Homo sapiens: one gene and its partners. The gene in region 2 interacts genetically with the main gene of each other region. Each region holds a gene or a part of one and is shown on either strand. Other genes may lie near its edges. The genes, in order: ARL5A, CUL4A, MAN2A1, MTF2, SLC39A3 and DEPDC5.

Region 1 (5,565 bases), on a different chromosome or scaffold from region 2:
ATATACTTACAAATGCATAAATATGCAACCATGCCCCCAAACTCTTAAGACCTAAGCAGATTTCTAAAGTCAATCAAGGGAAACCAAACTAATATATTTGAACATATCATATTCTTACCAAATGGTTAAAATACTTCAAAAACAAAAAGGAGGAAAGAAACTCCAATCAAACATAAGCAGAACCTGGAAAATATCCAAAAAAACCACATGTAGTCATGTGGTCTGAGATCTCTGGAGGGCCATTCCAATGAAGAATCCATGATCCAGAGGATCTTTACCTCCTTACTCCACCCAAACACCTACAAACTACATTCATTACAAAGTTCTAGTTGCTTCCTCCCAAGACGTAGCTCTATTTGAGTTTTTTTGTATTTTCACAATAAAGCACCAATGACTTTTTTGAGACGCAGTCTCGCTGTTGCCCAGGCTAGAGTGCAGTGGTGTGAGCTTGGCTCAATGAAACCTCTACCTCCCAGGTTCAAACGATTCTCCTCCTGCCTCAGCCTCTCAAGCAGCTGGGACTACAGGCAGGCACTACCATGCCCGGCTTTCTTTTTTTTTTTTTCTTTTTTTTTTTTTTTTTTGAGACGGAGTCTCGCCGTATGCCCAGCTAATTTTTTAATTTATTTATATTTATTTATTTAGAGATGGAGTCTCGCCCTGTCGCCCAGGCTGGAGTGCAATGGCATGATCTCGGCTCACTGCAACCTCTGCCTCCCAGGTTCAAGGGATTCTCCTGCCTCAGCCTCCCGAGTAGCTGGAACTACAGGTGCGCACCACCACGCCCAGCTAATTTTTGTATTTTTAGTAGAGACAGGATTTCACCATATTGGCCAGGCTGGTCTTGAACTCCTGACCTCATGATCCACCTGCCTCGGCCTGCCAAAGTGCTGGGATTACAGGTGTGAACCACCTGCACGTGAATCATCAGAAGTTTACTGTGCCTGGCCTAATTTTTGTATTTTTAGTAGAGATAGGGGTTTTGCCATGTTGGCCAAGCTGGTCTTGAACTCCTGACCTCAGGTGATCCATCTGCCTTGGCCTCCCAAAGTGCTGGGATTACAGGCATGAGCCACTGCGTCCCGGCCACCAATGACCATTTTTAATAGCTTCCTAAATCTAAGACATAGCATGTGGGTCACAATGAGAACTATAAAATTAAGACCAAACTGTGCAATGGGCTCAAAGACAAACGTGTCATCTCAATAATAGGGTCAGATTAGTCACAAAGTTTTTAATAGTAGATCAATTTCCTCTGAACATCCTTACTCTCACCACCACAGCCTGTTCCTTTCATTAGCAAGATGGAAAAGCATCTATACAAAATGTAAATTTGTAGCCAAAAAGTGCTATAATGCACTTCGAAATAAAGACTTCATAGAATCCCAATATGCCTACTACAAGAATGTTATTGTGGACAAATGCAATAAAACTTTCAGCCATTCCAACTCTTTGATGCACAAGAATCATCAGAAGTTTACTGCTTAGTATGATTTTTCTTTTAGACTATGTCACAGCATTCCTGTATTTACTCAAATAAGCCACAACAACTGCACTGTTCTAATGCTTTGATGGAACTGTGAGTTACCAATTAGGCTTTAACATACCAATCAATACTTTACTGTTTTGTCATGAAAATTGCTTCTTGTTTCCCTTTTCCTTCATTTCCTTTTGACACAGGCAGTCTACCAGTTCCATTCATTGCCAGTTTTTAAAAGTTAATATATATTCCCCCAACTCATCAGTCAATAAATTAAGCATAATAATAATTGTTATTGTAGAGAATTACTATCTCTGTGAATCATACAACATCAGAAAACACAAAAACACCAGGGCAAATAAATGGAGAGTCCTCTTGATTCATCATTTTTACCTCATATCTGAACTATCACTAAGCCCTATTAATTCTATGTCTCTCAGAGCAAAAAATTCCATTTGTCATATTCACTATAGTTCTCTTAGTCCATAGGACAGCTCCTGGAATAAAGCATGAGCTTAATATTTTTCATGAATAAATAAATCAGATCTGGAAAATATAAAGGTTAGGAGAGAGATATCTGCTTAAGTCGTTTTGTATTAAAAGTTCAATTTTTAAAACTTAAAAGTCTTAACAATAAAAAGAAAGTTTGAAAATAAACTTGCTATTACAGTAATGGTAAATTAAGTTTCAGGGGAATAACCAAATTTTCTTTTGCACTATGAGGTTGCTGAAAAAAAAAAGCAATGATTACACATGGCAAAATTAGAGATCCAATCAGGAGGCAGAAATCACACAATAATTTGAACTTGGAAAGTTCAACATCAAAAAAATATTACAGGGGACTGGAGTAATGAGAGATTGGCTAAAAGATTATGGGAATGTCAAATTTAAGAAGCACTCACTATCCCTAGGGTTGAGATAAAGGTCCTCCCCCTCCCTCCAGACTTAAGATGCAGATCTCGTTGGAGGGCACAGATAGTGGCTCACTGAATGGCAGAGAAGTAGCTGTGGTGAGGTGCCAGTGGAACCTGCCCAAAAATCCTCCCTCTTCGGTGCTGAGGAAAACTGTTTATTGAGAGGTATTTCACTGGAGACCTTCCATTATGAAACCAACTAAGACGGGTACTAGGGGAAGCTGTTGGCTGCTGCTGACCACTATGCAGTACAAGAGCCAGGCCTTGGAGACGGTGTTCATGCTACAAGCAGAGCCCGTCAAGAAAGCACACTATAACTAAGTACAAACACCCTTTCCTCCTACAATGCCTCTCCAGTGCAGCCTACTGACAAAACTTAACATTTTGCCCAGTGGCAAAAGAAAAACGTTTAAAGGACCTAGCTCCACTTCCACAGAGCATGCAAAAAGGGTTTACAAATGGTCTCTGACTTGTGATGTTGTAAAAGCAACACACATTCAGTAGAAACCATACTTCGAGTACCCATGCAAAGATTCTGTTTTTCACTTTCAGTACAGTATTCAATAAATTACACGAGATATTCAACCTTTATTATAAAATAGGCTTTGGGTTAGATTTTGCCAACCTGTAAACTAACATAAATGTTCTGAGCACGTATAAAGCAAGCTAGGCTAAAGCCATGGTTTTCAGTAAGTCTGGCATATTAAACTCATTTTTTACTTACTGTATTTTCAATTATCTATCTATCACAAATTATCAACTATCACAAATTGAGGAGCATCTGTATTAGAAGCTAAGACACAGTCTACCCCTTGGCTACTCAGCTTCCATATGTACTCTTCTCTACACATTTAAACTCCCTAATAATAATAATAATAATAATAATAACAACAATAATAAGCCAGAAACAGAGGTGGCTTCCTCAGCATCAGGTTCCTGAAGCACAGGCAGCTTCTCCTGCACCCATTCATACTTATAATTCCTTTTCTAGCAACCAACCAAGAGAGCAATACAAGGCTATTAATGAGGAAATTCCACAACTTCTTTTATAGTTCACATCAGTCAGTTCTTTTTATCTGAGTCCTTCTTATACAAAGTCCTTCTTACACGAAGTTGTGTGCAAATGTGCGTGCGTGCATGTGTGTGTAGAACTAACTCTGGCACTAGATAATCTTGTTAAAATCCAGGTGTGTGTGCGTAGGAGAAATAACTCCGGCACTACGTAATCGTGGTTAAAATCCAGGTCTATCACTTTTACCTATAGTGCTTAAAGCAAGTTACCTGTTTCCGTACCCCTGTAAAATAAGGGGAATAATATCTACCTTGTAGGGTTGTTGTAAAGAGTAAATCAACTAAGTGAATATTAAATCAAACAACCTGTGTGAACCTTGCACAAGTGTTAACCACTATTATTTTACTTGTAGAGACAAAGTGAGTTAATTTCCTGTCTCCCAACACTACATGAAAGCTCCATAAAGGCAGTGGAATTTGTCTGTTTTGTTCCCTTATCCCACCATGTAGAACACTTCCTGGACTAAATAGGTGTTAAAATATTTGTTTATTGAGAACAAGTAAACCACTGATCACAAGCTCTTCTATAAAAAAAAGTTACTAATGGCAACTTTTCGAAGTTCTAAAGACAACTTAGAGATTAGCAACTGAAAAAGTTAATGGGGGGAGGAGGAGGGAGGGAAAAATGATGTCAATCTCTTCTTTAAGAGATTCCTTCAGGGTTTTAACTTGCCTGGCTCTGGCATATACCAGTTGCATGGCCTGGGGAAAAAAAATCATTCCACTTAAGCCTCAGTTTTCCCTTTTCAGGGGAAATAACTACTTCAAAAGATTGTTAAAACATAAAATAAAATAAAATAAAATGATTTAAATGACAGCATCTAGGATAAAGTTTGTACTCTACTGAATCTCAGTATCAACTAAATGTGACCTCTGGTTTTTCTAGTTCGAGCGGTATACAAATAGCTTTCACTGTGCACTCAATCTGAGCTTTAACTGAAAAAGCTGTTCTCGAGGGGTTTCAGAAACAGGAGATACTGCATAGTTTAAGTTTCATCAGATGGCAAATTCTGTAATCTCCCGAAACATACTTTCCAAGAGTTTCTATGAAAAGAAAGTAAGATTGCATTCTGAATCCACTGAAGGTAAAACAAGAGCATCCAACACATATCTAACTTATATATGTCCTATACAGAAAAAAAAAAAAACAACCCTGCTGGGCACCATGGCTCAGGCCTGTAATCCCAGCACTTTGGGAGCCCAAGGCGGGTGGATCACGAAGTCAAGAGATGGTGACCATTCTGGCCAACGTGGTGAAACCCCATCTCTACAAAAAATACAAAAATTAGCTGGGTGTGGTGGCACGCACCTGTAGTCCAGCCACTCGGGAGGCTGAGGCAGGAGAATCGCTTGAACCCAGGAGGCACAGGTTGCAGTGGGCCAAGATCACACCACTGCACTCCAGCCTGGTGACAGAGCAAGACTCCATCTCAAAAAAACAAAAACAAAAACAAAACCCAACAAATATCTGGCATTAGATTAAATGGTGGATATTCGGAAAAGTGACCCTATTGATAAGACAGCCACACTGTTTAGCAGAAAATAAATAATTTATTCACACTTTCACAATATTCATATCTAATTTTCTAGAACTTAACTTCATTAATTTCTCTATTAATTTCCGCCAAACTGCCATAAATGTCCCGTCAAAAATTACCACAAAATACAGGTTATAAAAACACTACTATTAGCAATTTGTAGTGATACCAGAGCACACACCCTTATTATTTACTACTCCAAGGAGCTGTTGGCAAAGTTCTCATTTATTCTTAACTTACAGAAACAAATAATTTTATCATTGACTCAAAATAGAAAGTGGTGATAACTCTTTTTCTGGCAGCACTAGAGCTCAATTCACAGTCTTGCTAAACCTCACAGCAGATGAAACACTAGCTTTGCTAAAAATAATACAAAATGATGGATGTTAAAACTAGAATAGATCTTATCTACTATAAGTACCATCAGTCTTACAGCAATGTACGTTTTAATATTTGCAATGTAGAAATAAAGTTTACAAGATTTGGAAGCTCCACAGATCCCTGGTGTTCTAGGTGAGAAAACCTAGACCAGAAAACCTGAGAGTTCAAGTGACTGCTTCCC
Region 2 (5,565 bases):
TGTAATCACAGTTTTGCCACTGCACCAGGGAAATACAGTAATTCCCCTGCCTCTCCCATAAGCCTGCGACTTCTTGGAGGGTAGAAATCAGGCATGGGGGTCACTTTCCATTTTGCGGTGCCAGTGCAGTAGGTAGAAAGCAAGTGCTTGTGCAGTGAGTGAACTGATGGCACATTAGTCAACCCACAGAGTAGGAGTAACTGGCAAAAGATTCATTTGATCAGGTAATCAGATAGTCGTTTTCAAGTAAATTGGGACAGCAACTAGAGTAGGAACAATCACCGCCTACTGACTCTCATAAACGCCTAAGTCTTTGGGAGAAGGCTTGGGCATCTGCTAAAGACTTCCCCCAAGCCTAGGAGTCAGGCCGCTTTTTGGATGGAAACATCTGGAACGTAGGTTCCTGGAAGCGCATTGCTGAGCCGTGGCACTGGGGCGGGGCCTGCTTCTGTGCGCCCTCACAGGCGCCTCCTGAGATAAGGTGCACTTTGGCCAGGTTCCAAAAGGTGGTGTGCGGTCACTGATCTCTTGAACGACCTCATGATCTTTAGGAAAGGGCTTTGCTGGAAAACACTGCAGAGGCGTATTTACAGAAGCCAGCACAACAGAGCTGGAACCGACTTCACTCACATCTGTGCGGGGTGCTGTGGAGATTGTCTAAACAGAGACCTCTCACCCTGCATTTCAGCTTCCCTGTCACGTGCTTCAACTTCAGCAGCACCAACTGCTGCAGATTCCCTGAGGACCCTTCCAATGAACTCAGAATGGTTTAGTTTCCCAAGATCAGGGAGATGGGGGAGCAGAAGTTTCCTTGAACTAGAAGAACACTTAGAAATAAGCAAACACAAACCACCTAATTTTACACATGAAGAAACGGAGGCCTAGAAAAGTACAGCCACAAGTAGATTTTCTGCAATTATAAACTCTACTTTCTAATTCCTACCCAATGAGACACATGGACAGCTACAGTACTGGGAGGAGGCTGGGGAATGAGATTGAGTCCAGATTAAAGGATTTTCTATAGGATGCCAAGGAGCCCAGAGACTCCCCTGTAGACGTCTGAGTCACAGCTGGTGTGGCAGCAGAATTCTGAGATGCTCCTGCCCTGTCCCCACGTGGAGGATGCCTCACACGCAACTGTGAACGAGGCTGTGAATACGAAGGTCATCATTCCTTGACTGGGTTACGGGTTACATCATATAAGGCCCTATCTCAGCAGGTCAGACAGGCAGATTCTCCTGCTGGTCTAGAAGCAGAAAAGAGTCGTGCTGTGAGAGGAGAGGCAAGGACCTGTGCATGTGGAGCTGAGAGTGACACCAAGCAACACGGGACAGAAGGCAGGGCCCTCAGTCCCACTACCACAGGAACTGGCTTCCGCCAACTGCCTGCCCGTGCTAGCAAAGACCTCAGGTGAGGCCCCAACCTGGCTGACACCTTGACTCTGCCCGTGAGACTGAGCATAGAATCCACTGAATCCTGCCTGGCCTCCTGACAGACACAACTGTGCGCTGATAAGTGGGTGTCTCCATAAGTCGCCAAGTCGATGGGACTTTGTTGCCTATCACAGAAAGCCAATGCAGATGGTGTTTATTAGAATAAAGGATACTCAAACTTGAAGACATTTTTCAGAACATTTCCTAAATACTTCAACCATACCCAATAAATGAACACGGTTTCCCTTTAATTCAAATCAGCAAAATAATTTAAATGGTAAATTTCGCTTACAAACCTATCAAATAAAAGAGAACTTTAAAAGCTGTTGTTTTAATATTAAGGATACTCATTAGCTCTTTATCATAATAATGTTCAGTTTTAAAAGACTTAGATAATGAATAGAAACTTTATGAACCAAAAAAAGGATATTCTCTAAACGGAAGGATCTGTGCCTGGACGTGGTCTTCACAGGCCTGACGCAGTTGCTTGTAGAGCATTGGGGAGACTTTGTGAGAACAGAGATTTTCCACAGCCTGCAAACAAAAGGGCTACATCAATTCTTCAGTATGAACAACAGATTGGTTCATAAAAAAACCCTATTGTTAACATAGCTGTAATCATAAGAAAAAGGCACCCCACACCCTACCCCAGTACTTCAGGAATCTACAAATAAATTACTTATTATGGCTAAGTTTAGGGCACTTCTCGTTGGAACACTGCAGTCCAGTCATAGTTGGCATGGGGGTAGAGGTAACAACAGTTAATGTGGGCACATTGCACCTGCTGGACCTCGGGTCCCAGGCAGCTGGCCTGCACCACTCCTGAGCATCTATGGTGCCCAGTCACTTGGGACTTCTCAACAGGTTTGATCCTCACAGGCCTGTTTCCGGGTGCTCCGATTCCTCAGTCTGAGATGGGGGTCACTGGAGTGTGTTTGTGTTTAAGTTCACCTTGATGATTACAAAGTGAAATCAGGGCTAGAGAACCAAGAAAATCTTTTCCCTCAGTGACCACCTTCCCATCAGGAAGGAGAACAACAGGCTGGGCCTTCCCCTCACACTCCCCAGGGCAGTGATTCAATCCAAACTGAGCTTTTTCTGGGTGACACAGGCCAGACTGTATTGTTTCCTATTTATTTTTCTGCAGGCTAGATGTGTAATTCACTTCAGTTTGTTTAATTAATAAACTTTCTTTTTTATTCTGTGAACACCCCTAATACAAGAAGAAATCTTTTTTTTTTGAGTTGGAGTCTTGCTCTGTCACCCAGGCTGGAGTGCAAAGGCAGGATCTTGGCTCACTGCAACCTCCACCTCCCGGGTTCAAGCGATTCTCCTGCCTCAGCCTCCCGAGTAGCTGGGATTATAGGCACCTGCCACCACGCACAGGTTAATTTTTGTATTTTCAGTAGAGGAGGGGTTTCGCCATGTTGGCCAGGCCGGTCTCAAACGCCTGACCTCAGGTGATTTGTCCGCCTCGGCCTCCCACAGTGCTGGGATTACAGGCATGAGCCACCGTGCCCAGCTGACACCATTTTTTGAAGCAGAAAATTTTTTCTCACAATATTTTTACTCACCTCAAAGAAACAATGCTTGTACATTCTTACCAGTTCTAATAAAATTTCCTTTCCAATCTTAGGTACAAAAACTTAAACTCATTCAATTCCAATATGAAATATTATAAACAGAAATATGGTTTTTCTAACAAGTTTTGAACCAATGTGGGGTTCGAAAAATGTGGGGATATACAGAATAAAAACACTTTAGATAAATAATCTGAATTTAATTAGGATACAATATACCCCTAGGAAAAAAGGTAAATTAAAGTTATAAAGCTATTCATTTTACTAATACTTACACAAGTATTAATAATTCCAATACTAAATATCGGAGAGCTGCTACATATTAACCAAAGTTAAATACATACAGTGATTACTACCATATAAAATACATGCATATTTACAAAGATCAAAAGAGGATGTGGAATAATTATAATCCTGTTTTTAATTATAATCCTGTTTTCTAGCAAGCTTATTATCAGCATAATAACAAAGAAATACAAACTTTCCCCCTACATTTTGTCTTACTATAGAAACGGAATTCCTACCCACATTCTGTATTTACTTTAACTCCTTTCTCAAACTCTTCAATTCCATCCCTTTGAATTCCATATCTTCATAATTTGGTCAAAGATCTGCCATCCTTTTGTCTCCTCAAACAACCAAGAGAACTTTACGACAAAGGTTTTGCTCCAGTAGTTAAACATTAGTGAATCCCACAAACATAATTATTACAAAGTAAGTTTTTTATATAACACATGAAGAAAATGTATTTTCTTCAGCAAAAATCAACAGTAACTTAGGACCATTTTCTGGATGTTTTAATTCCTAGACCAAGAACCAATATCCTTAAAACCATCTTTTCCTGGTTGTGGCAAATGACTAAATATTTTATAACCCACTCTGCCTCCTATGTGTCCTATTTGGTGCACATTTACTATTCATATGAGTCATACTGCAATTTACTTTGTTTTTAAAATTAAGAATTTAAGAACCTCTCAAAACAAGTGGCAAGCCCTGGGTAACCCAGGTTTGCTGTAGGTGCTGAGTCAGGACTCCCGGCTTCATATTACAGGCACTCATCACTGGAAAGGCGACAGCCTTTGTTTCTCCCCGCCCTGCCAACTCCTTGCTGGCAGGAACATACTGGAAGACTTTTTTGTGCTGTTATAGAAGCAGCACAACACAGGAGTTGCCCCTCCCCCAAATGGATTTTTGACACTCAATCATACTTTGAGATTTAGAAATACCCTCTCTGGATGCATAAAGCAACTAATCAGATGGTACTGTGTGCTTCATGTTGGTGCACTCAGGCCATTAGCATTTTAAAGATTCACCCCAGAGAAAAGGAATGTAATCCAATGATCGGAGGTAGAGAAGTATCATTTGCATTCTACTCCTATTAGTATCAAGATGCTTTCCTTGTATCAACAGCCAAGTGAGGAAATTTGGTGTATATCTACAGCCAGCACTGTCTCTTCTCACATCACAGCTACTTCCTAACTAGCAGGTTCATCAAATGATTGTCTGTATTAGCTCAACAGACACGTGTGTGAATGTCAAATACACGTCTATTTATAGTGTCAAAGCATTGCCTGGAGTGAACTCACTGCTACTTAAACAAAATGCTCACTGCGGATAAGGGCAATCCCTGCTCTCAGATGTGGAAGACAGAACAAGGAAGGCCATGGAGCTGTGGGACATGACCTCCATAGTCACACAGAGACCTCCACAGCCACATGGGACGTGACCTCCATAGTCACACAAAGACCTCCACAGCCACACAGATGAGACCTCCATAGTCACACAGCGACCTCCACAGCCACATGGGACGTGACCTCCATAGTCACACAAAGACCTCCACAGCCACGTGGACGAGACCTCCATAGTCACACACGACCTCCACAGCCACATGGGACCATGGGACGTGACCACCATAGTCACCCAAAGACCTCCACAGCCACACAGACGAGACCTCCATAGTCACACAGAGACCGCCACAGCCACATGGACGAGACCTCCATAGTCACACACGCGACCTCCACAGCCACACGGACGAGACCTCCATAGTCACACAGCGACCTCCACAGCCACATGGGACGCGACCTCCATAGTCACACAGCGACCTCCACAGCCACACAGACGAGACCTCCATAGTCACACAGCGACCTCTACAGCCACACGGGACGCGACCTCCATAGCCACACAGCGACCTCCACAGCCACATGGGACGCGACCTCCATAGTCACACAGAGACCTTCAGAGCCACATGGATGAAACCTCCATAGTCACACAGAGATCTCCACAGCCACACGGGACGTGACCTCCACAGTCACGCAGAGACCTCCACGGCCACATGGGACGTGACCTCCATAGTCACAAAGAGACCTCCACAGCCACATGGACGAGACCTCCATAGTCACACAACAACCTCCATAGTCACATAGCGACCTCCATAGGCACACAGTAACCTCCATGGTCACACAGCGACCTCCACAGCCACATGGGACGTGACCTCCATAGTCACACAGCGACCTCCACGGCCACATGCGACGTGACCTCCATGGTCACAGAGA
Region 3 (5,565 bases), on a different chromosome or scaffold from region 2:
CCACTTGCTCTAATGCTCAGAATATTTCCTTCAAGTGGCACAGGTGTAATTATCAAGATTATCCCTCCTTCTTATGAAGCCAAACTACCTGACATATACTGCATGGTATTTAATATCATAAAATTGAAAACACTATGTACTGGTTTTCTTTTTTTTAACATTTTTTATTTCTTTAACTGACAAATAGGATGTGAGGGCGATCTGGCTGCGAAATCTGTCACCCCATTGATCGCCAGGGTTGATTCGGCTGATCTGGCTGGCTAGGCGGGTGTCCCCTTCCTCCCTCACCACTCTATGTGAGCCCCTCCTGAAGCTGCATGCTCAGTCGTAGAGGATGACCATCCCTGATGGAGGACGGGTCTTCGGTCAAGGGTATACAAGGAGCTGCACTCCCCTGCTGGAACCTCCAAACGAGCTCTAACTGACAAATAAAAATTGTATATATTTATCAAGTATATCATTTTGAAAAATGCATACATTGTAGAATGCTAAATCAAGCTAATTAACATATGCATTACATCACTTATTTATTCTTTTTTGTGGTGAGAACACTTAAAATCTACTCTTTGCAATTTTCAAAACTACATGCTTTATTATTAATTATAATCAGTATGTTGTACAATAGATCTCTTGAACTTATTCCTCCTACCTAAAATTCCGTATCCTTGTTTACTGGTTTTCAATTTTTGTAACCAACCTATAGTCAGAGTACATAACACATTCAGTCACAGAATGAAATGTAGATGATATAAGGTATGTTGATGTAAAAAAACTGATGGCTGAGGGAGGGTGAGAAATGAGAAGGAAGAGAAATTGAGTGGGAGAAGGCTGAGAAGTACCAAATTCCTTGACTGACAGAGTGGGGAGTCACTTTAGGCCTAAAGTTGATGAATCAAGAAAACAAATGCAATTACATCATTGAAAGCTGTTAATGTATATCAAACAGAAATTGAATACAAAACTTTTTTAAAAACTGGGAAGAGTAGGGGGTATTGAGTTAAATTCTTCATCTCTTATAAAGGGAAACAATAGCTCAAAATTGAAACAAAAATCAAAACAGAGGTATATGCATATATTTAAAGAAGGAACCACACATGGAACATAAAGAAATGGTCAGAAGTGGGACTCAGAGAAGAGTGGACTAAAGATGGGGAAAAAAGGGAGAGGGATTCTATTGTCAATGTGTACCTTTCTATGTCATTTGAATTATTTCTATGTGCATTTATACCTTTTACATGTTTAAAAGAAAAAAAAAATCATTGGTAAAGTCCCAGCTCTCCGGACTCCTCACTGAAGCCAATGAAGTGCACCAGCAAGAACATAGGACAGGGTCAAATTTAGAGTCTTCTCTGCTCTTGGAAAAAGCATTTAATTTCTCTGGACTTCCAAAGGCACCACCTGCAAAGGAGGCCAGTGGTAAATCCATTTACATGTGAAAAATACACAAATGCATACATTTTTAAATGCAAAAAAACAAATACTTAAAAAACTCTACTTAACACTAACCTTAATACTACTCGATGAGACGCATTACCCCCATTTTGTTCGGACTCAGTATACTGCAATTTAAAGATGATACTAAAATCTGTGAGGACACAAATGGGGTGTTAGCCTGTGTCACAGCAACACAGCAAAGAAAGTGACATATAATCTTTAAAAGTGAAGAAAATGATGAAAATTAGCAAGAACTGCTCTTTGATAAGCAGAAGAGCAGGCCAGTACCTCTGCTGACAACCTGAAAGTACCCTGCCTCCAAGCTGAGCAACGCTCAGGATCCCAGAGACCGGCTGAGTTCCATCTTCTATTTACAGCTTATGAAGAAGATACCTATACCTGAGCTCTCCCTTCTCAGGACTAACTAACCCAAGCAATCAGACTGGGCTCAGAATTAAGCCCATCTGTGAATTACAGCAGATCCAAAAAGTCATAAAGTCATGGTTTTCAGTCTTGAAGCTATGGATCAATTTTGCCTAGTTCATGGCCCAGAACCTTCCTTCCCAGAGCAGTCCTACAGTGCAAAACCTTCAGGTGAAAGAAGAGAAACAAACTCATCAAGCATGTCGATGCTCTAGCATCAAAGTTCCCCAAGGATACCTGGAAATCTATGAAACATGTAGATAACACAAGTTTTAAACCACTCTCTAAAAACACAAAGTTTGACCAATGCTTATCTAATAACCAATTTACGAGAATTTTGTTTGTCTTTAATTAACTCACATCTACTTTAACAGATCTAACAATACTATTTGCCTCCAATATTAACAATAGAGAAATATAGTTTAAACTAGGGATTGGCAAACTCTGAAAAGGGCCAGAGAGTAAATATTTTAGGTTTTGTGAGCCAGTTTCTGTCTTAACTACTAAACTATGCCACTGTTGTGTGAAAGTGGTCAGAGACAATTGGTAGATGAATGACCATGGCTATGTCATGAAACATTATTAAACCACTTAAAAATGTAAAAACCATTCTTAGCACATGGCCCTATAAAGACAGGTGGCAGACAGATTTCACTCATAGTTAGCTGACTCAGCAGAGTTCAAAACCAGAGGCCTTGGAGACAAAAGAAGGAAGATTATTTGTCAAGAACTTCATTCTTTCCCTAACCTCCCACCTCCACCCCACTTTCGTAAAAAATGCTATTTAGAGGACAAAATGAAATGATCAGGAGGAAAGTCTCTATCCACTCTCCTTATTTTCCAGTTTCTTTCCCTGCTTTTTCTCATCTCAAGAAGATATTTAAAATGTTGTAACCAGAATCATCAAAATTAACAGAAATAAAAACAATACACTGAAAAGTAAACAGTCTGCCTGAGAAAACTGCAGACATTTCAAAACATTTTTGCAGACAATTTTTATACTACCTTATTAATCAATATATCTTATCTTCCTATGCTAAGAGGAATAAATCTGGATAAGTGCCAACCTGTAATTCAGCTGGAAGAAAGTAAAAGATGATCTATTTACAATGACCTGACCCTAATGTTTTTCTCAGAATACACACGTCCAATTGGAAAAGAATTTTTTTACGTTCCATTATAAGAATCTTCCATTTTTTCCTTCAACTTACCTATGAACATAATCTATCCTTGAAATTTTTTGTAACATACTACAATCTAGAATCCTAAATGTGTAAGTGAATTTCAGGCATCCTGAGAAAGAATAGAGTTCACCCATCAAAAAATGCTAATTGGCTTTTTGAGCTTCGGCCTTTTGATCAATCCTTCCTAAAACACAGAAGTGCTAACGACATGTACTGGGTATAAAGAAGAGGCCACAGCCAACACAGTTTCAACAGGGATGATTCCCACTCCCAGAGGATATTGAGAGCAGTGTCTGGAGACATTGTTGGTTCCTACAACTAGGGGTACAGAGAGAGAACAGTGATGTTGGCAGATATCGGGTAGACAGCAAGGATGCTGCTAGACACCCTACAACGCACAGGACAGCCCTTAACACGAAAGAATTCTCTGGCCCAAAATGTCAACAGCAAAGAGGTTACAAAGCCTGGATAGAGGCAGCAAATGGTAGAGTATGTCCAGTTTTAAACTAAAGTACTTTCTCTTCTTTAGAAAACAGTATGTTAGATTTAGAAATTTAACATTAAGATATTTAAGAGATACCAACCAGGCGCAGAGGCTCACGCCTGTAATCCCAACATGTTGGGAGGTCAAGGCGGGCAGATCACGAGATCAGGAGATCGAGACCATCCTGGCCAACATGGTGAAACCCCGTCTCTACTAAAAATACAAAAATTAGCTGGGCATGGTGGCTTGTGCCTGTAATCCCAGCTACTCGGGAGGCTGAGGCAGGAGAATCGCTTGAACCCGGGAGGTGGAGATTGCAGTGAGCTGAGATTGCACCACTGCACTCCAGTCTGCCAACATAGTGAGACTCCGTCTCAAAAAAAAAAAAGATATATACTAGATACCTACTATCCACCTGTCTGCATAAAATATAATTACCTTAAACAGGGCACTCTTTCAGAAAAGCTATGATATGACCTCAAGTGACAGAGTTCATCAAACCAAATGATTTACTTCCTCCCTATTATAGGCACATTTAGCTATACTCACTAAAGCACTAGATGTGAGCTCCATTTCAGTACAATTAATCCTCAAACCTGTCTGAATTTAAAAATGGTTTCAAACTTAAAAATAGCAGCTTGGCTTGATAACTGAAACAGAAACCCATTTTAGTTAAAATGTCCTACTTCCTCTCCTGATTAACCTACTAATAACAACTGAGAAGCAAAAATCACTATTTTAGAGTTCTTCCTCCTTGCCTTAGTTCTGCTCAAACTTTTATAAAAGCTGCTGCTATCAGGAACTTTTACCAAGACAGAAGGGATAAAAAATGCAATAAGGCCTTTACAATCCAGCAAATACAGGTCATCAGAGCTGCTAAATATCCTTTCATTTTCTTAAAGATTACAGAAGTTGGAGAACAAGGGAAAACTAAGACTCCTGAATGCAAAAAAAGCTAAGAATAAACCAGGTGATCAGCAACAGCTAGTGAACCACTCATTCCAGGAAACTCTCAACACTTCAGTCCTTCAAAAAAGACTAAAGTTTTCAGTTATCACAAAAAGCAATAGCTGACTCAAAAACAAATAAAAGTGGTCATTTTAGCCACTATTTTGCCCACAGCCCAGACACCTCTTAATGCAAATTAAAAGCTAAGAGAGAAAATCCCCTTCCAATAATACAATTGTGACATCTCCCTGACAAAAATATTTGTTTAGGCCCTGATAACAGTGTTCATCTGGGAACAACACACCCAATTCAATTTAAAAAAAACAAAAAACAAAACATAAACTACTATCTTCAGACCACAGACAGTCATGAGTATCTGGCCCAGTTGGTTTACAGGAAATAAGTTTGGGTCTTAGTGAAAAATGCTGATCAGGAAGAGACCCACAGGGCTGTTGGACTGAAGAGGAGTTAGAGGACACCATCCTCAAAAGGCTCTAATGTTTGTTCTTGCATTCCTAAATGCTGGATGCACTATCAACGTTCCATCACTTCCCAAAAAGCACAGATCTCCGCATTATATCCCAGAAAATAAGACAATCTCCCTCATACAAACGTGAACAAACCCCAGCACCAAGTGCTATTGTTTATAAATAGACTGCACTCAAGGAAGGGGAAGGAGATCATATTTTCCTTATATGTCATTCTTAAGTAAGATTTACAGATTTATGAAAGCAAGAAAAAAACTGGGGAATCAAAGTCCTAGTTATATGTATTGCCATGAGTCAACTTTCATTAATAACATCTACTATGCTGGACTCTTAAGTACTACTGATGTAAAGTATGTAAGCACATTTCTGTATGTGTATTACAGTAAGTTAAAAAAAAAAAACACAAAAGGCAACTGGGAGCAGTGAATCACACCTATAATCCCAGCACTTTGGAAGGCTGAGGCAGGAGAATAGCTTAAGGCCAAGAATTTGAAACCAGTTGGTCAACATAGTAAGACCCCGTCTCCACAAAATAAAAATTTTAAAACTGGCTGGGCACAGTGGCATACACACCTGTAGTCCCAGCTACTCAGAAGGCTGAGGT
Region 4 (5,565 bases), on a different chromosome or scaffold from region 2:
CTAAGCATCAACCACACATGAAAAATTCCACATCTGACCTCGTAACAGGTTGTAGTCAAAACGCAGGTGGCACAACACAGTTTATTCAGTGTCCCGAACGAAAAAATAAGCTTTAGACTAAGCATACAACGTGTGTATGAAACATAAATGAATTTTGTGTTTAAACTTGGGTCTCATCCCCAAGACATCTCATTTGTATATGCAAATAAGCCTAAAATCCTAAAACCCTTCTGGTCCCAAGCATTTCAAATAAGGGATATTCAACCTGTAGCTGTCTGCCCAATTTTGAAACAACAAGAAAAAGTTCAAAGACAGCTGCCTGTAGTATACATTTTCAAAGCTCTGTATTTATCACATAGATAAATACAAAAGGACTTTATAAATAGTTCTTCAAACACCAACAAAACTGGGAAACTAACATAATTACTAGGCTGAAAAAGCTACAAGTCAAATATGATATATTAGTTTTCTTCTCCCACAGGAATATGTCTTTGCATCTCAAGATTCACCCGGGGCTGCCTATCAATTATTCACAAACCAAGATCTTTTCCACCCAAGGCATTCATACATATTGTACCTACTACCAAAATTGCCCTTCTTCCTCATCTTTTTTTTTTTTTTTTTTTTGAGACAGTCTCGCTCTGTCACCCAGGATGGAGTGCAGTGGTGCAATCTCAGCTCACTGCAGCCCCCGCCTCCTGGGTTCAAGTGAACCTCAGCCTCCTGAGTAGCTGAGATTACAGACATGTGCCACCACACCTGGCTAAATTTTTTGTATTTTTAGTAGAGACAGGGTTTCACTATGTTGGCCCAGCTGGTCTCAAACTCCTGGCCTCAAGCGATCCGCCCGCCTCAGCCTCTCAAAGTGCTAGGATTACAGGCGTGAGCCAATGCACCCGGCCTCCTCCTTCATTATTTACATAGTTGATCCTTCCTTCTAAGCATAGTCATGTGCTACACAGTAAAACTTTGGTCAACGACAGATTACATATACAGCAGTGGTCCCATAAGATTATAATGGAGCTGAAAAATTCATATTACCCAGTGACTTTGTAACCACTGTAATGCAATGCTTTACAATGTGTTTGCAGTGATGTTGGTATAAAACAAACCTACTGCACTGCCAGTAGCATAAAGTCTTGCACATATACTCATTATGTACAATACATAATACTGATAACAAACGACTGTGTTACTGGTTTATGTATATGCTATTTAGTTGTCCCTTGGTATCCACAAGGCACTGGTCACAGAACCTCCTGAGGATACCAAAATCCACAGATACTCAAGTTCTGCAGTGTGACCCATAGAACCTATGGATGCTAAAAGTTGGCCCTGGCTGGGCCCAAGTGGCATGCCTGTAATCCCAGCACCTAAGGAGGCCAAGGCAGGAGGATTGTTTGAGGCCAGGAGTTCAAGAATAGCATGGGCAACATACCAAGACCCCGTTTCTACAGAATATTTTAAAAATTAGCCAGGTGTGGTGGCATGCACTTGTAGTCCTAGCTACTCAGGAGGCTGAGGTGGAAGGATCACTTGAGCCCGGGAGTTTGAGGGTACAGTGAGCTATGATCACGCCACTGCACTCCAGCCTGGGCAACAGAGAGACCCTGTCTCTTTTAATGAAGAAAAAAAAAAAAAAAAAAAGGCCGGGTGCAGTGGCTCACGCCTGTAATCCCAGCACTTTGGGAAGCCACGAAGGGCGCATCATGAGGTCAGGAGATCGAGACCATCCTGGCCAACATGGTGAAACCCCGTCTCTACTAAAAAATACAAAAAAATTAGCCGGGCATGGTGGTGGGCATCTGTAGTCCCAGCTATTCATGAGGCTGAGGCAGGAGAATGACATGAACCTGGGAGGCGGAGCTTGCACTGAGCCGAGATGGTGCCACTGCACTCCAGCCTGGACTCCGTTTCAAAAAAAAAAAAAGAAAGAAAGAAAAGAAAAAAGGTAATGTAATTAGGATCCATAACTATACTATAATGACAATGCTTTGAAATTTTAAAAGTATTTTTAGTACTAGATAAGCACTTCACAAACTACCCTTCTATCTCCCTGATTATGGGAGAATTCTTTAACTACTATCAAAAAATCCTCAGAACTGAGAATCAACAGAGGGGCTCAAGTACTGATAAGAACTTTAAATTAAATGAGGATAGGAGAAAGTGATGCTTTATCTTATCAAGGAAAATGGTTTACTTTGTTTCTATATGTTCAAAGTATTTCTTTTAATACTTACATTTTTAAAGACAGGGCCTTGCTCTGTCACCCAGGCTGGAGTGCAGTGGCACATCATAGCTCTCATAGTTCACTGAAGTCTCAAACTCCTAAGCTCAAGCAATCCTCCTACCCAATCCTCCTGCCTCAGCCTCCTGAGTAGCTGGGACCACCGTGCCTGGCTCAGGAATAAATTTAACAGAAGAAGTTCGAGAATTGTACAATGAAAACTACATAATATCAGAGAAAGAAATTAAATAAGATCTATATAACTGGAAAGGCATCCCATGTTCATAGATGTTAATAATATTAAAATGGCAAGTCTTCCCAAATCAATCTATAGATTCAATACAATACCTACCAAAATCCCAGCTGCGTTTTTTTGCACAGACTCACAGATTGATCCTAAAATTTACATGGAAAAGTGAAAGGAACCCAGAATAGCCAAATTGTTTTTTAAAAAGAAAAAAACTTGAGGACTCACAACGTCCCAATTTCAAAACTTACTATGAAGTAATGGTAATTAAAATATTATGGTACAGTCCTAAGTACAGACACATAAATCAATGGAATAAAACTGGGATCCAAGAACAAACTTTTACATGTATGGTTAATTTATTTTTGACAAGATTGTCAAACACAAGTCAATGAGGAAAGAATTAGTTTTTTTTAACAAATGGTACTAGAAAACTGGTATCCACATGCAAAACACTGAAGTTGGACCCCTACCTCACACCATATATAAAAAATTGACTCAAAATAGATGACGGACCTAAATGTAAAAGCTAAAACTATAAAGCTCTTTAGATACGGCATCAAAAGCATAAGCAAAAAAAAAAGGAATAAATTGAACTTTATCAAAATTAAGAATATTTGTGCTTAAAAGGACACCATCAGGAAAGTGAAAAGATAATGCACAGGATGGGGGAAGAAAAGTCTGCAAATCATATCTGATAACAGGCTTGTATCCAAGAATAAAAAGACAGTCCCATTTTTTAAATGAGCAAAAGACTTAAATAGACAGTTCTCCAAAGAAGGTATACAAATGGCCAACAAGTATGTGGAAAGATCCTCAATATAATTAGCCATAAGTGAAATGCAAATCAAAACCACAATGAAATACCAATTCAAACCCTAGGATGGTTATAATCAAAAGATAGACAATAATAAGTATCAGTGAGGATGTGGATAAACTGGTGAGATAATCACTCACCAGATAATCGCTAGTGAGCTTGTAGAATGGCACAGCCTCTTTGAAAAACAGTTTGGCAGTTCCTCAAAACACTAATCCGAGTTATCATCTGACCCAGTAATTTCACTCCTAGATATGTGTACCCAAGAGAAATGAAAACATGTTCACCCAAACCCTATACATGAATGATCACTGCAGCATTACTTACAATAGTCAAAATGTGGGAACAACCCAAATGTCCATCAACTGATGACTAGACAAACAAAAAAAGGTATATTCATATAATGAAATATTATTTGACCCTAAAAAGATATGAAGTGACTATAAATGCTACAACATGGCTGTTCCATGAAAACATTAACGATATAGTTTGGATTTTGTGTGCCCGCCCAAATATTCCGTCAAATTGTAACCCCCAACATTGGAGGAGGCCCCTGGTGGGAAATGACTAGATCATGCAGGCAGATTTTCCCCCCTGCTGTTCTCATGATACTGAGTTCTCTGGTTGTTTAAAAGCATGTGGAGCCGCCCCCATCTCTAATCCTCCTGCTGTGGCCACTTCAAGGGGGCCACTTCAACAGGAAGTTTCCTGAGGCCTCCCCAGCCATGCTTCCTGTATGGCCTGTGGAACCGTAAGCCGATCAAAATTATTTTCTTTATAAATTACCCAGTCTCAGTTATTTCTTCATAGCAGTACAAGAATGGACTAATATAGTCATGCTAAGTGAAGGAAGCCAGACATAAAAGGCCACATATTGTACTACTCCATTTACATGAAATGTCCAGAACAGGCAAATTTATAGACACAGAAGGTAGATTAGTGGTTGCCAGAGGATAGTGGATAGGTGAAGGGGACTGACTGTTAATGGATTAAGATTTTCTTTTCTTTTTGGGATGATGAAAATATTCTGAAATTAGGTATGGTGATGGCTGCACAACTTTGTGAGTATACTAAAAAAAATCACTGAACTGTACACCTTCAAAGAATGCATGTGAATTATGTACATATAACTATAGTATATAAATTATATCTCAATAAAACTTATTAACAACTGTACAGTTAAGATTTGTGCATTTCAATATATGTAAACTTCACCTAAAAATAAACCTTTAAAAAATAATAAAAACAATGGGCTGGGCACAGTGGCTCAATCCCAACACTTTAGGAGGCCACAGCAGGAGGACTGCTTGAGGCCAAAAGTTCATGACCAGCCTGGGCAACACAGTAAGATCCCGTCTCCACAAAAAAAATTAAAAATTTAAAAATTAGCCAGGTGTGGTGGTGTGCACCTGTAGTCCTAACTACTCGGCAGGCTAAGGCAGGAGGATCACTTCCGCCCAAGAGTCTGAGGCAGCAGCAAGTTATGATAGCACCACTTCACTCCAGCCTGGGTGACAGAGCAAGACCTTGTCTCTTTTTACAGAAAAAAAAAAAAAAAAGAATGGTTACATAAAAGCTCACTATTCTATTCTGCTCACTTTGTATTATGTTTGAAATATTCCTTAAGTTTTTTCTACCAAAGTGTAAAAACAAAGTAATTTTTTTAAACAACAAAACGTTCCTAATATCCATTTTTTGTTGTTTTTTGACACAGAAGCAGAATCTTATATTTTAAAAAGACTAGAGAGGTCACTATCTTTCATTATTCTATTGCAATGTTATATGAAAACAGAAATATGACAGAAGACATGGTATGTGGTAAAAATGAATACTTCATCTTAAATGTACAAAAAGAATCTGAACTTCCTCAGTTCTCAGGCATTTCCTCATCCTTGGATTCCTGTGGTTTCCATGGTTAATGAATGTAACAATTCCTCAATACATGGATGCAATAACCCCTACTACTGTGCTGTCCAATACAGTAGCACTGCTACATATGGCCATTTAAATTTTAGTTTTAATGAATTAAATTATAAATTCACTTCTTAGTCTCACTAGTTACATTTCTAGAGTTCAATACCCACATGCAGCTAGTGGCTACTGTACTGGATACAGCAGATATAGAACACTGCCATCACTGGAGAAATTTCTACTAGATAGCACTACTCTAACATATAAGAAATATCCACAGGGAAACTTTTACATTCCAATTTAGGATGGTTATACTGGATTTCACAGCAATAAACAAATTTTCCTGAAGAACAGGGAAAACAA
Region 5 (4,562 bases), on a different chromosome or scaffold from region 2:
AAAGGACAAATGGCCCAGGTGGGGTGAAGCCAGGGGAGGGACGGGCAGAACCACGTCAGGTTCAGGACACTGCGAAGCTCCTATACCCCTGGGGCCAGGGCCAGGCTGCACAGGGTTCAGAGATGGATCCCCGGTAAGAGGTTCAGACACAGGTTCCCAGAACAGGCCCCAAGCTTCCAACAGCAGTGGGGTAAGGACCTCCTGGAGTGGAAGTTGGGGGGTCTCAGGAGCAGAGGCTGAACCCCGGGTTACTTATAGACCCCCTAAAGTGGAAGTTGGGGGGTCTCAGGAGCAGGGGCTGAACCCCAGGTTACTTACAGACCCCCTGGAGTGGAAGTTGGGGGGTCTCAGGAGCAGAGGTGGAACCCTGGGTTACGTACCGACCTCCTGGAGTGGAAGTTGGGGGGGGTCTCAGGAGCAGAGGCTGAACCCCAGGTTACTTACAGACCCCCTGAAGTGGAAGTTGGCGGGGGGTCTCAGGAGCAGAGGCTGAACCCCAGGGTACTTACAGACCCCCTGGAGTGGAAGTTGGGGGGTCTCAGGAGCAGAGGCTGAACCCCGGGTTACGTACCAACCCCCTGGAGTGGAAGTTGGGGGGGGGTCTCAGGAGCAGAGGTGGAACCCCGGGTTACGTACCGACCCCCTGGAGTGGAAGTTACTTACAGGGGCTGTGTGACTACTCCGGCCTCCTGGGACCCCCATGGCAATGCTCCAGGCAGCCACCGCCCTCTCGAGGTCGTCCCTTCCTGTGACTGGCACCTGGGAGCTGAGCTGGCTGCAGCAGGGCCACCGGCCGGGACACCCCACAGAGCAGTCACTGGCTGGCCCTGGAGCTCCCCATCTGACTAGATTGATGGACTGATGGATAGGAGGCCCCGCCAGGCCCAAGCCCACAGGCCAGATGGGCACCTCTCCGTGCAGCCCCCCCCAGTCAGCCTTGTGGGTAGGTGTAGGGAGGCGTGGTGGCGAGGCAGGGCACGGGATGGGAGAAGGGTACCTGGGGCCTGGCACTCAAAGATGAGTGACGAGGTGGGAGGTGGGGACAGCCAGAGGCCCTCACAGCCCTGATGGGGCTGGAAGACGCCAAGGCCCAGAGATGGGGTCCGGGGCTCCAGGTCAGATCAAGGAAAAACCCAGCCCAGGCGGGCATGCCCGGCTCCCTTCCGCGGCGCCACAGCGGCTTCGAGCCAGGCAGAGCAAAATCCCCGAGGAAAGGCGTCCCTCCCCAGCTCTCACCTCCCCAGACCCGGCAGGGTTGCCGGGACGACGGCTCAGGCCTTCCGGAGGTTGCCACAGAGCCAGGAGCCCAGGGCTGCCCCAGCCCACGCCCGGCTGCTCGTCCCCCGTGCTCCTGCCCTCTCGGGAGCAGCGTCCCTGTGTCCACGGGAGGGATCGCACCGCGGGGCCCCTGCCCCACCGCTAGTGGGGTCCATCTTCCTCTGGAGACCCCGGTGTGTGTAAGCAGAGCTGAGGACTGATCTTTAAGCTGCCTCCTGGCCCTGCTCGTGAGTCTCAGGAAACTGTGACACTCACCTGGCCCGGGGGTCCTGGCCCAGGGGTCCCCGCTCCAGGAGCCACCCAGCAAAGGGAAAAGGAGAGGGCACTCCTGAGGGTACATGGCCCACTCACAGGGGGTACAGCCTTGTGTGGCAGGAGGGACGGAGCCCGGCTGTCCCATCGCAGTGACTCCAACCTCTAATAAGCCTCAAGACACTCGGGGCTCGGGCGGCGAGATCCTGGCAACAGAGTAGGGTAGACGTTGGGGCCTCAGGGCCCCCAGCTGGCTCCTGAGGCACAGGCGGCGCGGCCCTCACTCTGGCCACAGCAGCCAAATGCTCCCGTCCTTATTCACAGGCTGGGGGTGTGCGGCAGGGAGAGGAGGGTCCTGACCGATCTCACCGGGACCCAGGTCCTGGCCCTCCCGCCCGTGGGTTGCCACACCCCACGGCCCGAGGTTGACATGGCCACACAGCTTTGGTAAAGACTTTTAAGAGAAAGAAGTATTTTAAAAAGTAGCAGTGCTCTGAGGCTCAGGGTGTAGGATCGGGGGCACAGCCTGGTCCCGGGAGGCCCCTTGTGCACAGGTGGTGGCCCAGGGCCACAGTGCTCGCTCTTGGGGGACGCGCGGCCGGGGGACGCGGCCTGTGTCCGGCCCGGGGCTCCCGGCGGGCTCCGGCGGCAGGGACAATGGCGAGGCCGCTCACCACTTGAGGAAGACCATCCCGGCCAGGACGGTGTAGCCCAGCACCAGGAAGAGGACCTTGAGCAGACGGTCACTCTTCTCCTCCAGCTCCTTGGCCAGGATCTCCAGGAAGGTGATGAAGAGGAAGGTGCCGCCCGCCAGGCCCTGCAGCAGCACGGACGCCACGCTGCCCGGCACGCCCTGGGCGCTCTCAATGCCCAGGCCCAGGCCGATGCCCAGGGGGATCATGGCGCTTACGGTGACCGCCAGCTTGGCCGCGTCCCGCAGGGGCATGGCACTCCGGGCCATGCTGATGCCCAGGGCCACGGCCACCAGTGTCTCGTGGACGGCCACCCCCACGAACAGGCTCACCACTTTCTCCCCCTCCTCCTGCAGGCCCAGGGCCAGGCCCTCAAAGACCGAGTGGGCCGACAGCGCGAAGGCCAGGCTGAGCAGGCGCACGGGGCTGGCGCGCGAGAGGCCCTGCACGCTCAGGCTGGGGCCGTGGCCGTGGGGCTCCACGTACAGCGCGTGGCCCCGCGCGCCCCCCATGAAGGGGCTCTCATACTCCGAGTCGCTGCCCACGTCCGATCCGGCGTTGAAGGTCTCCAGGTCGATGAAGGACGGCTTCTCCTTGCGGAAGGTCAGGATCAGCTGCTCCAGGAAGACGGTCATGAAGAAGCCCAGCAGGAGGATGGTTTCGGCCAGCGGGTAGTCGGTGCTGATGTGGCCGAGGCTCAGGACCTTCTGGAGCTGCAGCCGGGGACACCCGAGAGAGAGAGAGAGACCCACGCTCAGGGGTGGCGGCGACAGGGCTGGCCAGATGTCACCGTTCAAAGCAAAGTCCAGAAATCCCCGATTCACACAGAGGTTAAAACAAGTGGGAGAGGAAGGGCTCGCCTGTGATGAATTAACACCACCACCACCAGCCAAGCGCGGTGGCTCATGCCTGTGACCCCAGCATTTTGGGAGACTGAGGCTGGCGGATTGCTTGAGCCCAGGAGTTCGAGACCAGCCTGGCCAATATGGGGAAACATGTTTCTACTAAAAATACAAAAATTAGCTGGGCATGGTGGCGAGCACCTGTAATCCCAGCTACTCAGGAGGCTGAGGCAGGAGAATGGCTTGAACCCAGGAGGCAGAGGTTGCAGTGAGACGAGATCGTGCCACTGCACTCCAGCCTGGGCGACAGAGGGAGACTCCGGCTCAAAATAAACACATAAAGAGCTGCACTGGCCTTGCGTGTTCTGCCGCGGGGCCTCCTCTCTGCTTCCCTGACCGACATGCCTGGGCCCGACTCTCCTCCTGGTCAGGGCTCTCCTAGCGAGGGGAGACTTTGGTGGGGAGAAACTAGACGTGGGTCAGACGGGAGCCGCAGGGCGTCTGCAAGAGGTACACACTCCTATGGGAGGGACAGCTGCTCACGGGGCGGACACGCAGGCATTAGGCTATGCGCCAGGATGAAATGTCTCATGAAAGGCAGGCTGTAAACGCCCACAACAGCTCCCTGGAGCCTCGTCACGGCAGGGCCAGAGTTCACAGCCACCCTCCAGAGAGACCTCGAGACCAAAGTGGAGGAAAATCACAACACAATCGACACTCAACAATGCCTGCTTCCCTGCTTCCTTCCCAGCGGAGACTTCATTACAACCTGCGCACGTGCACACACACACACACACACGCATATGTGCACACACGCACGCACACACACGCGCACACGCAGGTGCACACACAAGCACGCGCACACAGTGGTTCTCAACCAGGGCGATTCTGCCCGTGTGGACACCTGGCAATGTCTGGAAACATTTTTTATTTTCACAACTCGGGTAGGGGGAAGGTGCTGACATTCGGGGCTGGATTGTTCTCTGGGACGGGGCCGTCCTGGGCACTGCAGGGTGCTGCTGAGCAGTGTCTCTGGCCTCCACCCACTCCAGGCCAGGAGCACCCCCCATCGTGACAACCACAATGTCCCCAGGCATCGCCCAGTGTTCCCTGGGGGCAGTTCACGCTGGGTGAGCCTCTGCTGCAGCAGAAGGCTGTGTTTCCACGGAGAAGCCACTTAACTCCCTCACTGACCACCGGCTGGAGGCCTCATGCATGCCTCGCTTGAGGACAAGCTCATGAGGAACTCTAGCTACTCCCAAGAGACAGACGTTGATCAGGAGAGATGAGGCAGATGCACGGGAGCTGTGAACCAGGCACCATTTTCCAGGGGTGACTGAGAGCCTGGCCCTGCAGTGGGTGAGGCTGGGGGCTCGGGAGTAGGGACCTCATCCGCCTGACCAGCCCGAGGACAGGAGAACGGCGGGAAAGGTTTGGGTGCCATGAGAAGGCCACTGTGATGAGGGGGAGGGAAGAGCAAGCTCCCCGCAGTCGCCCA
Region 6 (4,322 bases), on a different chromosome or scaffold from region 2:
GACCAGTCCTCTGCATCATTGTACCAGTGTGCTGCAGTGTGCTCCTTACCTAAACCCCCAACCTTCCACACCTAAACCCCCACCTTCTGTACCTCTACGTTCCACACCTAACCCCCCTCCACCTTCCACACCTAACCCCCCTCCACCTTCCACACCTAACCCCCCTCCACCTTCCACACCTAAACCCCCCTACGTTCCACACCTAAACCCCCCCACCTTCCACACGTAAACCCCCTCCACCTTCCACACGTAAACCCCCGCCTTCCACACCTATTCCCCCCACCTTCCACACCTAAACCCCCCCACCTTCCACACCTAAATCCCCCTACCTTCCACACCTAACCCCCCCAACTTTCCACACCTAAACCCCCCACCTTCCACACCTAAACCCCCTCACCTTCCACACCTAAACTCCCCCACCTTCCTCACCTAAACCCTTCCACCTTCCACACCTACCCTCCCCCCATCTTCCACACCTACCCTCCCCCCACCTTCCACACCTAAACCCCCCCTTATACACGTAAACTCCCTCACCTTCCACACCTAAACCCCCCACCTTCCACACCTAAAGCCCCCCACCTTCCACAACTAAACCCCTCCACCTTCCACACCTAAGCCCCCCCACCTTCCACACCTAACCTCTCCCACCTTTCACACTTAAACCTCTCCCCTGTTCCACACCTGTCAGAATCTTCCTCCAGGGATTCCCAAATGTTTCCTCTCTGAATTCCTCTTTCCCTTTCTTTCAAAACACTCTGAATGTATTCCAGTGACTTGGGGGCCCTTGGAGGGCAGGGGTATGCTTTTTCCTATTTGTGTTTCCTTCTATAATGCCTAGCAAGGTGCCTGCCTAGAGTAGTTTCATATGTAGCTTTTGCATAGGGTGGAGCTTTAAGTGCAACTGTGGCTCTAAATGACACATCAGCCCACCCATAAGGTCCATCTCAGAAAGAGCTAAAAAAGTGTCCATCTTCCTCAGCCCCTAGGCTGTGACCTACAGCTCCTCCTTCATCTTCCTCAGCCCCTAGGCTGTGACCTACAGCTCCTCCTTCATCTTCCTCAGCCCCTAGGCTGTGACCTACCGCTCCTCCTTCATCTTCCTCAGCCCCTAGGCTGTGACCTACAGCTCCTCCTTCATCTTCCTTGGGGCAGGTGGAGATGATTATATCCCCTCCCCTGCCCTTACTGCGTTTCTGTCTTGCATTCTCCCTGAGTGGACAGTCAGGTGGCCAGGAACCATGTGGTTAAATTGCCTTTTTGTTCTTTCCTGGTGACCTAAGGAAGAAATGAGGTAAAAAAAAATTACTCTGGTAAAAAAAAATCAGGCTGATCCATGCTGAGGAAATCAGTAGCCTTAATTAGAAAGTAGAGAGAAAGCAGGCTGGGTGTGGTGGCTCACGCCTGTAATCCCAGCAGTTTGGGAGGCCGAAGCAGGCGGATCACCTGAGGTCAGCAGTTCAAGACCAGCCTGGCCAAAATGGTGAAACCCCGTCTCTACTAAAAATACAAAAATTAACTGGTCATGGTGGCGCGTGCCTGTAATCCTAGCTACTTGGGAGGCTGGAAGCACAAGAATTGCTTGAACCCGGGAGGTGGAGGTTGCGGTGAGCCAAGATTGTACCACTGCAGTCCAGCCTGGATGACAGAGCAAGAGTAGAGAGGATTTTGCAAAGGCAAAATCCAGAGCCAATCCTCATCATATAATCAGCCTGTAGACAGGGAGCTTACAGTGCATAGTAGCCTACCCATTTAGTTTGCATATTTGACTTCATGTATTCTTTGGTAAAAAATTATGGAATGCAGATTATGTAGAGGATACAACACAGCACCTCCCCAAGGAACTCAGTCCAGGAAAGAAGACAGGCATTTTCCCTTCTTTAGTTCTGCCTACATCACTGTCTCCATTATATAAACCCCTCAGACTTAGAGGGCAGGAGCCACATCTGTTACCACGTCCTTTACAGCTCTTAGCAGGTAGAACTGTAATAAATGTGCCTTATGGAAATAGAAAAACCAGGAATAGAACAAGCCATAGATGAAAAATGGCTCCTCCTGCCCATTTCCAGAGCACAGGGAAGCAGAGAGCCCCAGCTTGGCGTTCCTCTTTTTTTTTCTTTTTGAGATGGAGTCTCGCCCTGTCACCCAGGCTGGAGTGCAATGGCATGATCTTAGCTCACTGCAGCCTCCGCCTCCCGGATTCAAGTGATTCTCCTGGCTAATTCCAGAACAATCCTGGCTAATACAAAAATTAGCCAGGCATGGTGGCACATGCCTGTAATCCCAGCTACTCAGGAGACTGAGGCGGAGAATCACTTGAACCCAGGAGGCAGAGGTTGCAGTGAGCCGAGATCATGCCATTGCACTCCAGTCTGGGCAACAGTGCGAGATTCCCTCTCACCAAAAAAAAAGATAAGGACCTTCCCTGGAGGAATGGATAGCCTCGAGTATGCGGGTGGGTATGTGTGGCCTGTCAAGACATGAGGTAGATTCCAGTGAGAGGCCCAGGATGGGATGGGGGAGAACGCTCAGTGGGAAGGTCTGCTGGGATGGGTAGGGAACATGGTAGGAGGGACGGGCTGTCTGAGCAGAGATGAAGGCTGGATGAAGAGTGCAGCCGGTGGGAAGGCTTTCTTTCACTATGGTGGTAGTGACATGGTGGACCACGGAGATGACGGGCTGCTGGGTGTGAGGAGGTCTGGTAAGCCATGGTGTTGGAAGAGGTAGAGGTCAGAAAGTGGTGAGGGTGAGGACAAAAATAAGCAGCCTGCATGTGCAATCTGGAAAGAGATCTTTCCAGATCTCTGTGTCTCAGGCTGTCCGAGAGTCCTATCAGCTACATTCTCTTCCCTTGCCCCTTTAACTAAGGAGGCGCTGATTAGCATGTCTTCCTGTCCTTCCCTAGGTTTGGGTTTGTACAAGATAAATATTCTGCCTCTGCTTTTAACTTCCCTGCTGAGAACAAGCCTCAGTATATCCACGTTACAGGTGAGGAGCTACGGGCAGAGTTGGGCAGGTGGGTCCACATCCCTTTCCTTGCACCAAGCCTATGGCTGCAGAACCACCTCAGCAGGCTCCAGGAGCCCTCCTGGTGGCTGCCACACAGGCGCTCCCCTTTCTCTTCAGGAACAGTGTTTCTGCAGCTGCCCTACTCCAAGCGCAAGTTCTCAGGGCAGCAGCGGCGGCGGCGGAACTCCACCAGCTCCACCAACCAGAACATGTTCTGCGAGGAGCGGGTCGGCTACAACTGGGCCTACAACACCATGCTCACCAAAACATGGCGCTCCAGCGCCACAGGGGATGAAAAGTTTGCTGATCGGCTGCTGAAGGACTTCACGGACTTCTGCATCAACCGTGACAACCGGCTGGTCACGTTCTGGACAAGTTGCCTGGAGAAGATGCATGCCAGTGCCCCGTGAGGCCAGGCTGCACCTGTGCTGGGGGAAGGTGGGTGAGCCACTGCCCTCAAACCCGGGGCGGAGGATTCCAGGCAGGCTCTAGGAGTCAGGTGTCCGTTTGCTGCTATCAGTGAGTGGGGGCCATTGTTTTTTGTTTGTTTGTTTGTTTGTTTGTTTGTTTTTGGCCCCCACGACAAGTCTTCTACTCTAGAAGAAAGACTTTGGAAGCAGCTGCTGCTGCTGCCACCACTCCTGTCAGCAAGTGCTCAGAGCAGGTGGGAGGCACAGATTGTCCGTGGGAGGGCTCCAGTGTCTGGGAAGAGGGCAGGCGGCCCCCATGAATGTCCTCGGAAGGGGGTGGCTCCTGGTAGCATCCTTTTCCTTCACCATCTATGGGATATTAGGGGCAGAATCTGCCACTTCTTGCCCAGGAGTGTGCACAGATGTAAGATAATTTTGTGAAATAATGTACCATAGACTCTCACCAACTGTATATACCTGTACATATCAGAAGCAAATAAAGAGCTCCACGTGCATCATTTCTTTCCCCACCCAGTTCCCCACAGAAGCAGTCCCATCCTGGGCTGGGCAGTTGTGCCAGGTGGCCGGGGTCATGGCAGTCAATGAAGTGGTCACAGATGGTGAGAGGGCTTCAGAATTCACTGGCTTAGAGTCTGGCTGGGAGTTTATTGAGAGATTTCTTTCATAGGCCACTGGGCAGGAGCAAGGATGGTTCCAGTGAGGACAGTGAGCAGGCAGTATAACTTACAAGGTAACTGCAGGCTCATGCTGTCAGAATGAATCTTGCTAAATGGGTGAGCTCAGCTCTGGGACGCAGATATGATGGCATTCTGAAAAAAATCAAAGGAAACATTTTGTAGACTCTAACTTAGGTTTTTTTTGTTGTTGTTTTTTTTGTTGTTTTTT

The links.
Region 1: changes in CUL4A (region 2) and ARL5A together harm fitness more than expected from each alone (negative genetic interaction), as found in Homo sapiens cells (one large-scale study listed by BioGRID).
Region 3: changes in CUL4A (region 2) and MAN2A1 together harm fitness more than expected from each alone (negative genetic interaction), as found in Homo sapiens cells (one large-scale study listed by BioGRID).
Region 4: changes in CUL4A (region 2) and MTF2 together harm fitness more than expected from each alone (negative genetic interaction), as found in Homo sapiens cells (one large-scale study listed by BioGRID).
Region 5: changes in CUL4A (region 2) and SLC39A3 together harm fitness more than expected from each alone (negative genetic interaction), as found in Homo sapiens cells (one large-scale study listed by BioGRID).
Region 6: changes in CUL4A (region 2) and DEPDC5 together harm fitness more than expected from each alone (negative genetic interaction), as found in Homo sapiens cells (one large-scale study listed by BioGRID).

The regions. Positions count from the first base shown.
Region 1 is NC_000002.12:151,821,224-151,826,788, forward strand, and holds part of ARL5A (ADP-ribosylation factor-like protein 5A), read right to left. Parts: intron 1-5,565. UniProt on the Homo sapiens protein: Lacks ADP-ribosylation enhancing activity.
Region 2 is NC_000013.11:113,215,347-113,220,911, reverse strand, and holds part of CUL4A (cullin-4A), read right to left. Parts: intron 1,968-5,565; coding exon 1,864-1,967; intron 1-1,863. UniProt on the Homo sapiens protein: Core component of multiple cullin-RING-based E3 ubiquitin-protein ligase complexes which mediate the ubiquitination of target proteins. As a scaffold protein may contribute to catalysis through positioning of the substrate and the ubiquitin-conjugating enzyme.
Region 3 is NC_000005.10:109,694,456-109,700,020, reverse strand, and holds part of MAN2A1 (alpha-mannosidase 2), read right to left. Parts: intron 1-5,565. UniProt on the Homo sapiens protein: Catalyzes the first committed step in the biosynthesis of complex N-glycans. It controls conversion of high mannose to complex N-glycans; the final hydrolytic step in the N-glycan maturation pathway.
Region 4 is NC_000001.11:93,081,559-93,087,123, reverse strand, and holds part of MTF2 (metal-response element-binding transcription factor 2), read right to left. Parts: intron 1-5,565. UniProt on the Homo sapiens protein: Polycomb group (PcG) protein that specifically binds histone H3 trimethylated at 'Lys-36' (H3K36me3) and recruits the PRC2 complex, thus enhancing PRC2 H3K27me3 methylation activity.
Region 5 is NC_000019.10:2,730,551-2,735,112, forward strand, and holds the end of SLC39A3 (zinc transporter ZIP3), read right to left. Parts: exon of another isoform or gene 3,976-4,562; intron 2,936-3,975; coding exon 2,201-2,935; 3' UTR 1,974-2,200; downstream 1-1,973. UniProt on the Homo sapiens protein: Transporter for the divalent cation Zn(2+). Mediates the influx of Zn(2+) into cells from extracellular space. Controls Zn(2+) accumulation into dentate gyrus granule cells in the hippocampus.
Region 6 is NC_000022.11:31,903,082-31,907,403, forward strand, and holds part of DEPDC5 (GATOR1 complex protein DEPDC5), read left to right. Parts: intron 1-2,902; coding exon 2,903-2,985; intron 2,986-3,123; coding exon 3,124-3,416; 3' UTR 3,417-4,322. UniProt on the Homo sapiens protein: As a component of the GATOR1 complex functions as an inhibitor of the amino acid-sensing branch of the mTORC1 pathway.